4 separate regions of the Homo sapiens genome follow, and all the other regions are reported to be linked to region 2. The links are microRNA targets in miRTarBase. Many come from high-throughput screens and were not tested one by one. Region 2 holds a microRNA gene; each other region holds the end of a gene's coding sequence. Distances are between the middles of the regions.
The links. Region 2 holds the annotated microRNA hsa-miR-26b-5p (UUCAAGUAAUUCAGGAUAGGU, at 1,720-1,740, opposite strand). A microRNA usually pairs through its seed, bases 2 to 8, with sites in the 3' UTR of a target mRNA and lowers its output. Matches are read on the target gene's strand: a 7mer-m8 pairs with bases 2 to 8, a 7mer-A1 pairs with bases 2 to 7 and ends in A, and an 8mer does both.

Region 1: miRTarBase lists PIAS2 as a target of hsa-miR-26b-5p. The part of its 3' UTR that is shown has no 7-base or 8-base seed match.
Region 3: miRTarBase lists RAB3GAP1 as a target of hsa-miR-26b-5p. The part of its 3' UTR that is shown has no 7-base or 8-base seed match.
Region 4: the mRNA of KIF21B is a reported target of hsa-miR-26b-5p. Seed matches in the 3' UTR shown: 7mer-A1 at 2,087-2,093 and 7mer-A1 at 515-521.

The regions. Positions count from the first base shown.
Region 1 is chr18:46,809,918-46,813,119 of GRCh38, forward strand. PIAS2 (protein inhibitor of activated STAT 2) reads right to left here. Exons shown (of 14, transcript NM_004671.5): 14 at 1-2,695. The coding sequence ends at 2,516. Among named protein-coding and RNA genes, the nearest start is that of ST8SIA5-DT, 54 kb to the left of the region's middle.
Region 2 is chr2:218,401,195-218,404,396 of GRCh38, reverse strand. MIR26B (microRNA 26b) reads right to left here and starts at 1,751; the gene lies at 1,675-1,751. It overlaps CTDSP1 (CTD small phosphatase 1), which reads right to left. Exons shown (of 7, transcript NM_021198.3): 2 at 2,685-2,833; 3 at 2,182-2,286; 4 at 1,992-2,048; 5 at 1,270-1,362; 6 at 980-1,165; 7 at 1-100.
Region 3 is chr2:135,168,136-135,171,337 of GRCh38, reverse strand. It overlaps RAB3GAP1 (RAB3 GTPase activating protein catalytic subunit 1), which reads right to left. Exons shown (of 24, transcript NM_012233.3): 24 at 628-2,793. The coding sequence ends at 2,557. Among named protein-coding and RNA genes, the nearest start is that of SNORA40B, 33 kb to the right of the region's middle.
Region 4 is chr1:200,970,735-200,973,917 of GRCh38, forward strand. KIF21B (kinesin family member 21B) reads right to left here. Exons shown (of 35, transcript NM_001252102.2): 35 at 1-2,844. The coding sequence ends at 2,787. Among named protein-coding and RNA genes, the nearest start is that of KIF21B, 51 kb to the right of the region's middle. RefSeq lists an enhancer at 341-520.

The sequences.
Region 1 (3,202 bases), not on the chromosome of region 2:
AAATAAACTACTAGAAAGTCAGGGTCTGGATAAGAAACAGTGACCACATTAAAGGCTGACGGATTAATAATCATGATGTTGCCATAAGGCCAAAGTCATAAAGTACTAATGCTCAAGACAGATAAACAACGTAAGCCCCAATTTCAAGATGATAAACTTCAAAGTGTATTTTTTAAAATGCAAGTTGCCTGTATGAAATAAATTAAAAATTTATATGTAATTTCAGTGTAAAACACCAAAACCGAACATTAAAACTGTTCACAGAAAATAGAAAAAAAAACAAAAAAACAAATCACAATTATAAAAGCACAGAGATATCAGTTATAAGAACCAAGTAAATAAACTAATTTCTATTAATATTTTCATTTACTTTATAAAACTTTGTTGATTAAATTGGGGGAGTCTCTGACAATCTAAAGGGTAACAAAATAACAAATATACATCATTTCTTTATAAGTCATACCACACAAACCAAGTTAAGTTTTTTCTATCTGATTACAGAGTCAATAAATATTGCATCTGTATTTAGAGCAGCAACATAAAACTTTATTAGAAAGAAATACTATATCTGGACCAAAAAACTGCAACATGGTTTGGAAATCTAATGACTAAGAAGGTAAAACTGGCAACTATGTGCAACTACTGCTCGTAGATTTGGGTTTGTTTCCCCCCCAACATCTTTAAAATAAGCAGCCCCCACAAAGGGATAATCCATTGAATAAGGAGACAATGTAGCCAAAGAAGGGATTTGTGGAAAACCATATGAATTTAAATCAACATAAAAAGAACACACAAAGGCCATGGAAACTTGAGAAGGTGAAAGAAAAAAAAAAAAAACCCCAAGCAAGGACAAGTCAGCTCCTTGGAGCTGCACCAACTCTTAAGTAGGATGTCCCTATTCTAACGGAAATTGATGAGTCCACACCTGGGCACTTCAGTTTGAGAAATCAATTGGTTGGACTGGCCATTAAAAAAAGGACTTTGTTTTTAAGGTAGATAAAGCTTAGAGAGAGAAAGCTAAACAGAAAAGTACCAAATCCTTGTGAACTCAAAAATGATTTAGGAAGTCAAATGAAGCAAACTAAAAAACTGGATGAAAATGTTTCTCTAAGAGTAAAACCCAGTTTTCTCTGTGATTTAAAATCAAACAAACACACTATAGAAGAGAAATTTTCAAAGTGCACCCAATAAAACCTCAGAGGTTCCCTGGAGTGTTTGGGGTAGCATGGATTGAGACAGGAAGTGGGTTCAGGCCCATCTCCCCCAACCCTTCTTCACTTTAATTCAAACATTTCTAATTCTCTTTTGTCGTTTGTAGTTTCAGGTAAGATATCATTTTAAAAAAATGAAAAAAAAAAAAAATCTAATGCTGTCCCTTTCCCTAAGTTTGAAAATCACTGCTGAGACTGAAATTACATTGGTGAGAAATATGATCATCATAAATCTAAAACACATTTTCTATGTAGTGCTACCAAAATACAAAGTTTCATCAAATATTTCACTACTATTCTGTAAAATAAATGAGAAAATTAAGTTGTTGGGAAGAAATTAAATTTTGTTATTACCACCTCCCAAAATCTGCTCTTCTGCTGGCTCCAAGATATCAATATTTGATAGTGTGAACAAATTTCTAACAAACATTCCAGTCACACCGTACCCCAAAGACATTTCATTCAATGGCTGCATAGTTTCTTTTTTGAGAAGGCAAGCCTCAAATTTATAGAAAACTCTAGAATGAAAAATGTACAATTACTAAAAACATAATAACACACTTTATGTCAGGGCAGAATCTGCATAGTGCTTTTAAACATAATCACCAATGAAGAGTAGCCAAATCCCAGAACTTCACACAGCACTCATTAGCAAACAACGTCAAAGTGTAAATGATAAGCAGGAAAAAAACCAAGTAACACGAATGCCATTTTTCTTTGATGCAATCACGAAGAAAAGTGGAAATGCAGGACGAAAAGTGGAATCCAAGCTTTGGCCACGTACTGAAACTTCATTACTTCAATGAAACAGAGCAAATCTCCATGGAAAGGACTCATTCAGCAAACATTAAGTTCTTTCCATATATTTTTTTTCCTTCACGTAAGGTTAAACAGAAGTTGCTGTCATTCTAGAATCAGTGATTACAATTTTTTTTTTAATTAGAAAAAAGGTTACTTGAATATTTACATAATTTTATTGCTCTTTATTTTAACAAAAACTTTTTTCACTGATTTGTAGACTCCATCCATTAACGTATGAAAGTGAAATCCATCTCTCAGGAAGATACAGTTATGGTTGAATGTATCTGATGCTGAGAGTACAGCATAATTAAGAAAAATCCTTGCATGTCATTTGGTTCTTGTTGCAGTCTTCTGTGTTCACCCCTCAGAAAGCAAAAGAATCCATCTGACTTTCAATAAATACCAAATTATTAAAAAAAAAAAAAAAAGAACGTTTCCACAGACTAGAGATCCAAGAAAAAGCAGTTCTGATGAATGATTCCCAGAATCAAGTGAGTCCTCCTTTAGTCCAATGAGATGATGTCAGGAATGTTACTTCCACTGCTGGTTATGACCCCTGTCTCACTCCTGCTGCTGGATGAACTAACATGAGTACTGCTTTCATGGGAGCTGGTGGTGGTGACAGACGTACTGCTTGCTGTTAAGGGTGAGGTGAGACTATCCAAAAACATAGGAGGACAGTACTGCTTGAAACAAACAATGATGCCAATGAGGAAGAGGCTACTTGATTTTAAATAAAGAGACTAGAAATTATTAGATATGCACAAGCAATAGTCACATATTTAAATCCCAGTGGGATTTAAAAATTGCTCAAAACTTCACATCTTTGGGTGGAAGATAGCATGAATTTAGCTATTTTACATTATTTAGAGAATGCAGCATATATTCTTGATTCTCTCTAAACTTGTGGAACTTGTTTGCTGACCACATACAAAGGTAAAAGTACAATGTCAACAATAACTGAAGTCATTTAATACTAAATATTGGCCCTAATCTCAAAAAGAATTTGCTCCCTAACTGTATTTAGTTGGGTGTCAATTTTGAAAGAATTGTTGATCTTACACCAGCATTTTTGCTTAATAACATTTTTAAAAGTATTTGTTAGCCTTTCCCGGTATGGATTGAGTATCAAACAGATCCTTTATGAATGTTAAGGCTGACCAGCTGAATGATGGCATTGGACTCCTTTG
Region 2 (3,202 bases):
CTGAGTACACGTCGTCCACACGGCTGAGTTGCTCGAAGAAGGGGAGGAGGTCGTGGAGCTCTGTGTCACTCATGTTGTCAAACCACGAGGCCACCGGTACCTGGGGAAGTGGGTGTAGGAAGATGAGGGGGGCAGGTGGTCCTGGGTGCAGAATTTCCAGGCCAGCCCTATGTAGCCACTACTCAGATCATGCAGTTTCTGAAAACCCCTCACCCACAGTGTTCAAACTTTTTTGACAGCAATCCCCAGGAAAACACATTTATAACGTAACAATGCAAAAGCTTCACAATTCCTAACCTTATCTGTGCGAAGCACTCGGATACTTTTTTTTTTTTTTGAGGCAGGGTCTTGCTCTGTTGCCCAGGCTAGAGTGCAGTGGCACAATCTTGGCTCACCACAGCCTCTGCCTCCAGGGCTCAAGTGATACTCCTACCTCAGCCTTCTGCATAGCCGGGACTCCAGGCATGCGCCACCACGCCTGGCTAGTTTTTGTATTTTTTGTAGACATAAGGTTTCACTATGTTGCCGAGGCTGGTCTTGAACTACTGGGCTCAGCTACCTGCCCACCTCAGCTTCCCAAAGTGCTGGGATTACAGGCATGAGCCACTGCACCCGACCGGATATTTTCTATTCTATTTCATTTTGTTAAAATTCCCAATCAGAACCCACTAAATTAATTCTGTGGGCCATCAGTAGGTCACAACTGGCAATTCGAAAAATTGAAACTTTCCAAACTCCGTTGCCCTGTGGGGGCCCCTGTGCATGGCAGATGCTCTGCTTTGTGCGAGGGGAAAAGACCATATGGCTACAGGGCAGGTGGATGAGGGGAGTGGGCGGCAGGCACAGGCAATGAATGCAGGAAGGACTGGGAGGGCACCCACCCCCCAACTGGGGATCCAAGAGGCCAAGGTGGCCTGAATGGACTGACCCCTTCCTGGGTCTCAGCTCCTGTCCCAGTCCCAGTCCAGCCCGCACTCACAGCATTGTCTGGATGGAAGACATAGGAGGCAGGTGAATTGTCCAGGATGAGCACCCGCCGCAGGTCTCGACCCAACCGGCTCAGGTCCTTCACGTAGTTCCCCCGGTGGAAGACGCAGGACTCTCGAAACAGCCGGGCCCGGAAGGCCCCCCATTTGTCCAGCAGGTCAGCTACTGGGTCTGCGTACTGGGAGCAGGAGGTGGGTCATCCTGGGGCCCGCAGGTTCATTGGGCTGCATGCGGGAGGTAGGTAGGAGGGCAGGGTTGCCCCGGGACCCCTGTGGGGCTCACCTTGGCGAGGCTAGCAGTGAACAGCACACATTCAAAGAGCTCGCCCATTCGCTGCAGGAACTCATCCACGTGAGGACGCTTCAACACGTAGACCTGGGGGGCGGGCCAGTGAGGGGGCTGCGGGCCAGTGGGGCAGTGTGGGGGTGGCCGAGGGCTGGCAGGGCATGGGCCAGGGAGGCAGAGGCGCACAGGAAGGAGACTGGGCCCGCAGGCTCCGCTTGGCCAGCTACCCTGACCACTGCTGGGGAAACTGTACCCACCCCCCGCCAGAAAACGATCAAAACTTCCACTCCACTGGCCAGTCCTACCTCACGAGGTCCCTAATTCCCAATCCCTTCCCCTGCCTCAACCTCAGCCTAGTGCAGGAATCCAGGGGCAGCCCCCTCACCCCAAGGCTGCAGGGCACCGGTCCCCGAGCCAAGTAATGGAGAACAGGCTGGACAGCACACAACCTATCCTGAATTACTTGAACTGGGTCCCGGGCAGGGTGGGGCGAGGGAGCACAGCACGGGGGAGCCTAGAGGAGGAGCCCACTCTGCAGGCTTGGAGTCAGCACAAGCCCTTGAGGTTCTGTGTGACTTTGGGACAAGTCTCACACCCTCTCTGGGCCTCTGACATTCCACATGTATCCAATTCCCATCCGAGGCGCTCCGGATTGGTGGGAAGAGCCTAGGGTCTGGAGGCAGATGCCAAGCCCACCACTGCCTCTTCCTGGCCCTCACCTGGTGGACCACCCCATCAATCTCCACAGGGATGATGAAGTCCGCGTTGTTCACTGGCTGTGGGGGGAAAAGAGCTGCTGGAGTTGGAGGAGGAGCCCCAGGGCATGGGGTCCAGCACACACCTCCCTCCCAGGCCAGGGTGGGGGATGCCCCCCGAGACCCGGGCTGAGGGCTGTTGAGCAGGGCCCACCTTGAAGGAGCTGTGCACCAGGGTCTCGTCCAGGTCGATGACCACGCAGATCTTGTCTGAGTCCTGGGCCTTGGCCTCAGGGAGCAGGTATTGGACTGGGGTCTGCTGTAGGGAGGGCGGGGCTGGCTGGGGTGCCTCTCTCCGGGCCTGGTCCTTCCTCCCACGCAGGCTTCTCCCCCTAGCCGTCTCCAGAGGAACCCCAGGCCCCAGGAACAGATACTTCCCCCTTCCCAGCTTTGCCCCTGCCAGCTCTAGGGCTTGGGTAGGCCTCTTGGCTCTTTGAGACCTCTCTAAAAACCAAGGTAGGAAAAAGCTTCCACTTATGAGGGAGAATTCAGTTTCCCCACAGTGGGCAGGGCCTGGCAGGGGAGGCTGCCACCCTCCTACTCTGCACCTTTCAGGTCTGCAAGTCCATCCTGAAAAGCTCAGTCAGGAGCCCCTTCCCCTAAAGCCCTGAAGACTGAGTCCAGGTGCCCCCGTGGCCCCACCTGGCCCCCACGCACCTTAGGGATGGCGCCATTCTCCTCCACAAGCAGGGGCGCCCCGCTGTGAGCAGGCAGGGCCTCCCCATCATCCCGGCAGACACAGCAGAAGAGTGAGTGGAGGATGCCCCGGCTTCGGGGCTTCTGGGAAGCTGCTGACTTCTGGTCACCTGAAGTAGGGAGGCACAAGTTGGAGGCTCGGTGCACACTGGCCTGCAGAATCCTGCATGTGTGCCCAGGTGTGAACCCCTGAGCCAGGAGGATCTTGCCGTGGCCCCTTCATCCAGACACACGAAGGCAGCTCCTGACTTTCTCTGAAACGCCCCTGTCAGGGCTCCACAATCAACTGCAAGGCTCCTGCAGCTCCCAGACAAATAGGTCTAGCAGGTATTAAGGCGCCCACATAGGGAGTGCGTGGCCTGGAGAAGGAGGTCCTGGGGTGCTCTCTCCCTGCCTCTCACAGCCTCCATGACTGCTGCTGATCAGCCCCATTGCGGTGCCTCCTGACCCCACCTTACCTGAGCACCCCTGCTCAGGAC
Region 3 (3,202 bases), 83 Mb from region 2:
GTCACTCCCCTGCACAAAACCCTTCAGTGACTCACTACCGCCCCAAAGGCAAAGCCCTAACTTGTAGCTGCGGCTTCCCCCGAACTTCTTGGTCTTGCCTTAGTTCACCTCACCATCTTCATTTCTTGCCCCTTCCCACTCTAGATACCACACTTCAGCCAAATAGAAATGTTGGCTGCCCCCCAAATAGACATTTTCCCTTATTTCTGGGATTTTGCCCATTCCGTTCCTCTGCTTGTAATACGCTTTCTGCCCCCTCCTGTCAGTTACCTTTTGCCCCAACTCTCACCCTAGAGTGGCCTTCTTCACAGTGGCTTCAAGGCTCCTGGCAAGAAGGGAGGGCAAGCCCCAATGTGCAAGGACTTGTCAAGTCTCTGTCTGTTGACCAAAGAAAGACATGGCCGAGACCAGATTGAAGAGGTGGAGAAATAAAGCACTTCACAATGAAAATCATGATTTCATTGCACACAGGGCTGGAGGAATGCCTGGTTCTCTGCAAGCCATTTCCCATACGCCCCCCATGCTTTCCCCAGTGCCTACTCAGCTTCTGGTCTCAATCCCAAAATCACACCCTCTGGGGTAATTTTCCTGATCCTCAAAGCCTGGGTGAAGAAACTCCTACAACACTTTATGACATTGCTGCATTTATTACTCCGTACTGCCAATGAATACATGAATGTAGGATTACATTCAATTATTTGTAGGATAAATGCAGGCCCTCCGATCCACACAGCAGAGTTGACTATACTCAACATTTTGTGGCAACGTGGTGTCAGTTTTCCCTGTAAGGGAGTGTGTTTTGGTTTCTGTTTTATCTTCATTGCTTGTACTGTACCTGACACAAAGTGGGTACTTAAATATATCTGTGAAATAAATACATAACTATCATAAAAATAAAATGGAGTACTTTAAAAAGGCACAAAGAATGTTCTTGAGACCACTGCCTTGTTAGGCTCAGCAGGCTGCAAACATTAGAGCTGAGACAGCACAAAACCACATGAAATTAGACTGAAATGCCTCAGCGGGAGAAAATGAAAGAAAACGCCACAGAAAGCGACACTTTCCTTTTATTAGATTCACAATGCCTTTGTAACGCCCAACCTCTCCTTTGTAGAATTTTTCTTTGTTAGAAAACAGACAAACTCTGTCCTTAGGAACCGTCTTCTACTTGGTACAGCACTGGCCTCAGGCCGCCTGCATCTGCGTGGACCAGTAAGAATGAAGTCCAGCAGCATAGAGAAAAGCATCATAAAGGCTGGGAGGTCATCCCCCAGGGCCTCCCCTACTTCACATACACAGAGACGTGTGCATATGTCACACACACACACATATTATATATAGATATGTATTTTTTTTTTTTTTTACAAAAATAACAGGGTTTGCACAGCTCTATTAATTTTTTAAAATTACACAGGCAAGGTTTATGCTTCAGTATAACCATTTTTACTTTGGATTTAAGTGGGAATTTTAGGCCTAAAAATAAGATTACCAAGCAGAGGCCATCTAGCCACACAGACACAAGACATCTTGAGCTCCATGAAACTAGAAATGTGGTGATGTCATCCTCACACGGGGGGGCTACACATCCCCATCGATTATTTTAACTAAAATACAAAAGCAAAATAGTGTGTTAAAATAATCCTCTACTCAATGCATTAGCACATATACCAAATTATACTATCTGCATGACAGTCTCTAGGTACCAAGACTGTATTTTTGCAAGTGCTATTCTCTACTTCATTAAATACAGTACCCAGCCAGCAACCACAAAAAGAGAACGCATGCTGTACAGCAAGAGAAGGGGAGGGAGACGATTTTCAGGGCCATAACTTCCATGGCAACCAAAAGAAAAATAAGTAAGACAAATCTCACATGACAGATATAAAACTAATTTGCAGTGACATTTGATATATAGTTTTATCAGAAGTAATACATTTAGGTTACAGTTACATGAAAAAGAGAAACTATGTGAAATTATAGGCTTTCTCCTAGAATATCCAAAATGCTCATCAACAGTTAATTAGTACAAGAAAGATGACCACCAGGTGATTGAATAGACAGAATGTCATGTAGTATTTTAAAAACACAGATTCTGGGACTAGAAGCTACCACCAAAATATCCAGAAATCTGAGTTAACAGGTCCTTTATTTTGCACACTTGCTGCTGATATATAGAACCACGAAGTGTTTGCACAGACCACGAATGCAGCCGCTAGCCTAGAGGCTGGTCACAGAAGAGAATGCGATGAACACCGTCCTGCCAGTGTGAGGACGGAGTGTCTGATGTGTTTGTGTCCCCCCACCACCCCCCCATATACAAAGGCCATCTCTAGGGCAGAAATCTCTCAACAGCTCAAGCCCATCCTCGCTGCCCCCTCCACGAAACGACACAGCTCAAGCTTGGTGCTGGGAAGTCTTTCCGATGCTGGTTTGATTCCTGATCACCCAACTGGACAGGGCCCTCTCCAGGACCTCCCAGGTTCTCCCTGGTACCTTCCCTCCCTCAGGAGGAGGCAGCACTGTCTCTGAAGCCACCAACGAGTAATGCTAGAAGAATCAGAAGAAGGAAGTATCTGATGAAAAGGCACCTGCAAGTCTAAAGTCCTCTTTGGTGAGAACACTGTACATCCGCTGAGGCAGAGCTTTGGAGTAGGGAGCAGGGCGCGGCACAGTGGTGCGCAAAATGAATTCCCGGCCAGCAGGGGGTGGGAAGTCTGACACGGAGTTCTGCCTTCTTTCCTCTGGGGAGCCCATTCTCTTCAATTCCTCCTCTGGTGGAGTCATAGCTGCAGCCTGGAAAAGAATCAAATGCTAAAGTCAAAAGCAGGTCAAATGCTAAACTCAGATGCTTTTGAAGGACAGATGAATTAACATAATAAAGATATGAAAATGTCCCACGTTACTCAGTAATGCAGTCAGCTATATGTTAAGATTACTCAAAAACCACATAACACAGCAAATGCAAGAAGCTTGAGACACTGCATGAGCAGCCGGGCTGGAGACAGACAGGAGGGATGATGACTGCCAGGCAATCTGCTCTGAAGAGAGAAGGCCATATTTACACATCTGATGAAAAAGGACCTCGGAGCTGTGCTGCTTTCTATGTTTCTTCCAGCAATGACCCAAGTCTACGTCTGACAGCCTCAGTCCAGTAAGGAGCTGTTTTTCTCCAGAGTGAAAAGATGATTTTCATCTTGACTCT
Region 4 (3,183 bases), not on the chromosome of region 2:
AGGCTCACTAGGGCTAGGACTCAGCCTGAACTCAGGCGTTTAGAGATTTGGGGTGCGGGGTTTAGAGAGCGCTTTACTCCTGGTCCCATGGCGTAAAGATGTGGCTGGGCCTGACAAGGCTCAGCCTCCAGTCTTAAGATGGGCACAGAAGGGCAAGAAGTAAGATGACGAGTCCCAGAATTAGGACAAGCCATGAGCCAAGGCCTGGTCTGAGCAAGGGCAGCCCCCTGTCCCAGACACAGGCACCCCCAATCTCACTTTGGACAGAGCCAACGTGGGGGGATCCTCCCGGGCCTGGGCCTGTCAAGTCTGCCTGCGGGACCCTGCCATTGTGCTCAAATCACAACCATTTTGTGCTTCCAACATTTAGGGTGCTTGTGCAGTGAGTGGAGCTGGGGGCCTGCCCCCTAACATGGACCTTGGACATCCCTGAAAGAGTGGGCAGAGAATCCAACTCTCATGAAGCACAACTCGGGGTGTCTCATGGATGTTGGGCTCAGGGCTCCTGAAGGACTTCAAGTTTAGAGAGTCAATGACACTTGCCAGGACAGCAGAGCTGGCCCCGCCGTGAGGTAGCTGACCCATCAGAAACAGCAGAAAATGGGCATGATGATGAGCACCTCTCGCAGGGCCATAAGATCACACTTCGTGCAAGAACACGCCTTGCAGCTACAGTGCAGTCACCCCAGGTGGGGCATCCCCGGCCCGGGGGTGGGAGCTCAAGGGGACAGAGTCTTACGTGTTTCTATCGCTTGTAAACAGTCATGCGGACGGATTCTTTCTTACAGGTTGCAAGGTCAAAACTTTCTGTTCAGGTTGGCGGGGAGGAGTGGGAAGAGATTTGTGGCCACATCTTAGAGCTAAGGGGGTTGCCCGGCACCCCCGGGGTGGCCAGAGGAAGAAGGATTTCCAGCCATTGCTGACAGACTGTTCAGGTCCCAGGAGACCAGCATCCAAGGGGGTCTCCTTCCTGCTATCAGCTGCCCCAGACTTCAATACCACATCCAGCAGGGCCAGCACCAGCAGGACAGCCGTCTTAGCCTCTGTGGCAGCTCCGAGGAGGGCACGGGGAAGGGACCAGGCCTCACTCAGCCTCCACTGGAGCCTGCCTCCCCCCAACACTGGGCGCCACATGGAGAGGGCTCCAAGTGCCCCAGCCCAAGACGGAGAGGAGCCAAGGGCAGAAACACAGAACCACCTCTGGAAAGTCCAAAAGTCACTGCGTCCTCTGAAGGGAGGTGGGGCTGGCTCTTGGCTCCCAGACTGAAGCGGGAAGCACAAGACCAGCGATGCAACGGAAAAACAGGGTGGGCAACTTTGGGTGGGGGTGGGGCGGGGGAGAGGGATGGAGCTCAGTCCCCCCCAAGGCCCACTCCTGTAATTCCAGAGTTCCCCCAACAGGGGGCGCCAGAACACTGATTTAACAATTTCCCCGGAGCTCCGCGTCCCCAGCCCCGGGGCAGAGAAACTCTGCCAACTCCCTCTTCCTTGATAATTTTCTGCAAGGGAGGGCCTGCGCTCCATGCCAGTTTTAAGGCCGAAAATGTGTCTCCTGAATAACCAGAGAGAGAGAAGCTGGAGAGACTCCCCGGCCCAGTGGGGGACTGCAGGGCTGGGGAGGGGCGGGGGTCAGGGTGCCGGGCTGTCCTCCCCATCCAAGCCACCTCCCAGCAGACACAGCCCCCATGCTGCTTCCTACGTGGCCCACGCAGGACTGTGGGGCAGAACCCCGGGGCCTGGGCTGTGGGGTGAGCGCCCCCGCCTTCCCGGGGGCGCTGGGCACAAGACCTCGCGAGTGAGAAGACACATGTGGTGCCGCGGGCATGGCTGGTGTAAGGCTGCCCGGCACGGGTGCCAGGCCCCGGAACGGAGGAAGGCACTGAGCGTCAGGCGGCCTAGAGGCCAGGGGTAGCTAGAAGACTCCCTGGGGGCTGTGTCGGGGACAGGCCTGAGCTGCAGAGTCGAAGGAGCAGTTCCCTCCTCTGCAAAGCAAACAGAGGAGGCGGCCCTGGAGGGCCGGGGCAGCGGACTCCCTTTGGGATTTCTGGCCCCCAAGAGCTGAGGGAAAGAATATAGGGGAAGAAACTTCAAGTCCGTTTCCAGGAGGCAACAGCAAAAAATAAAAATAACAAAATAATAAATAACTGAAGTATTTCTGACCATCTCCCCAAAGGAATCTTTCTAGCAGCTCCACCTTGGCCCCATCCAAAAGGGACCCCAGGGAACTGTTGGGGCCAGTTGGGGCTATCTGCGGGTTGCCAGAGGGTTAAGGGTTAGCTGCAAGGCCCAGCCGCCCACACCTGGTTTCCTTAGCTACCTGAGGACTTATCTTTTTGGGCTCAGAGGCAGGTGCAGTGGCTCTAGAGGCTGGGCTGGGAGAAGCGGGGAGGCCAGCTCCTCGGAAGGGTGGGATGGGGCCAGGCTGCTGCACCTCCCCACAGGGCTCCACCACTGGGCCAAAGGCCTGAGAAAGGGGCAGAGCCGGTTCAGCAGGAGACAATGTGGCCACGACTGCCAGGAGGGGAACAAGAAGGGATAATGCCCTTTGGCTTCACAGCTTAATTTCCTCCCCAGCCTCTCTCTCACCCAGAGGCTCCTGAGAGGCAGGGGAGGGATGAGGGAACAGTGTCCTGTGGGAAGGCCAAGGGAGAGGGAGGAGGGCAGGAGAGGGGGCCACGCCCTCTGTCCCCAGAGCAGCTGGCCCCATCGGCCGGGTCACAGCTTCCCTTCCATGGTGTCCAGGCTGCTGGGGTCGAGGGTCCGGGGGCATCCCTCTGACCTCACTCCTAGGGTGGGCCGCTGTGGGGTAACCGCCGGACACTCCAGAACTTCACCGTCAGGTCACTGGGGTGGAGGACAAAGTGGAGGGGTGCCGGTCAGCTCTTGCAGTGGGCTTGGCTGGCTGCCCCCAAAAGTAGAGGATGAACTGGATTCCCCAAACTCCCCAAATGTGGTTGGGGCTGGGAGGCAAGCATGGCTTACGGGGAGGTGGACTGCAGGTGGTGGGGTGCTGGGCAGATGGAGAGGCCTGTGCACTCAGAGGCCCCCAGGGGAGCTTTGTCATGGGTTTTCTTTTTTTGGGGGGGTGTTTCGTTTTGTCCAGGCCTGAAGGCTCCCCCTTCTGCTCCCTGGCACCCATCTCCTGGGGCCTGTCCCACTGTTCATGCTTGGAAAAGGACGGTG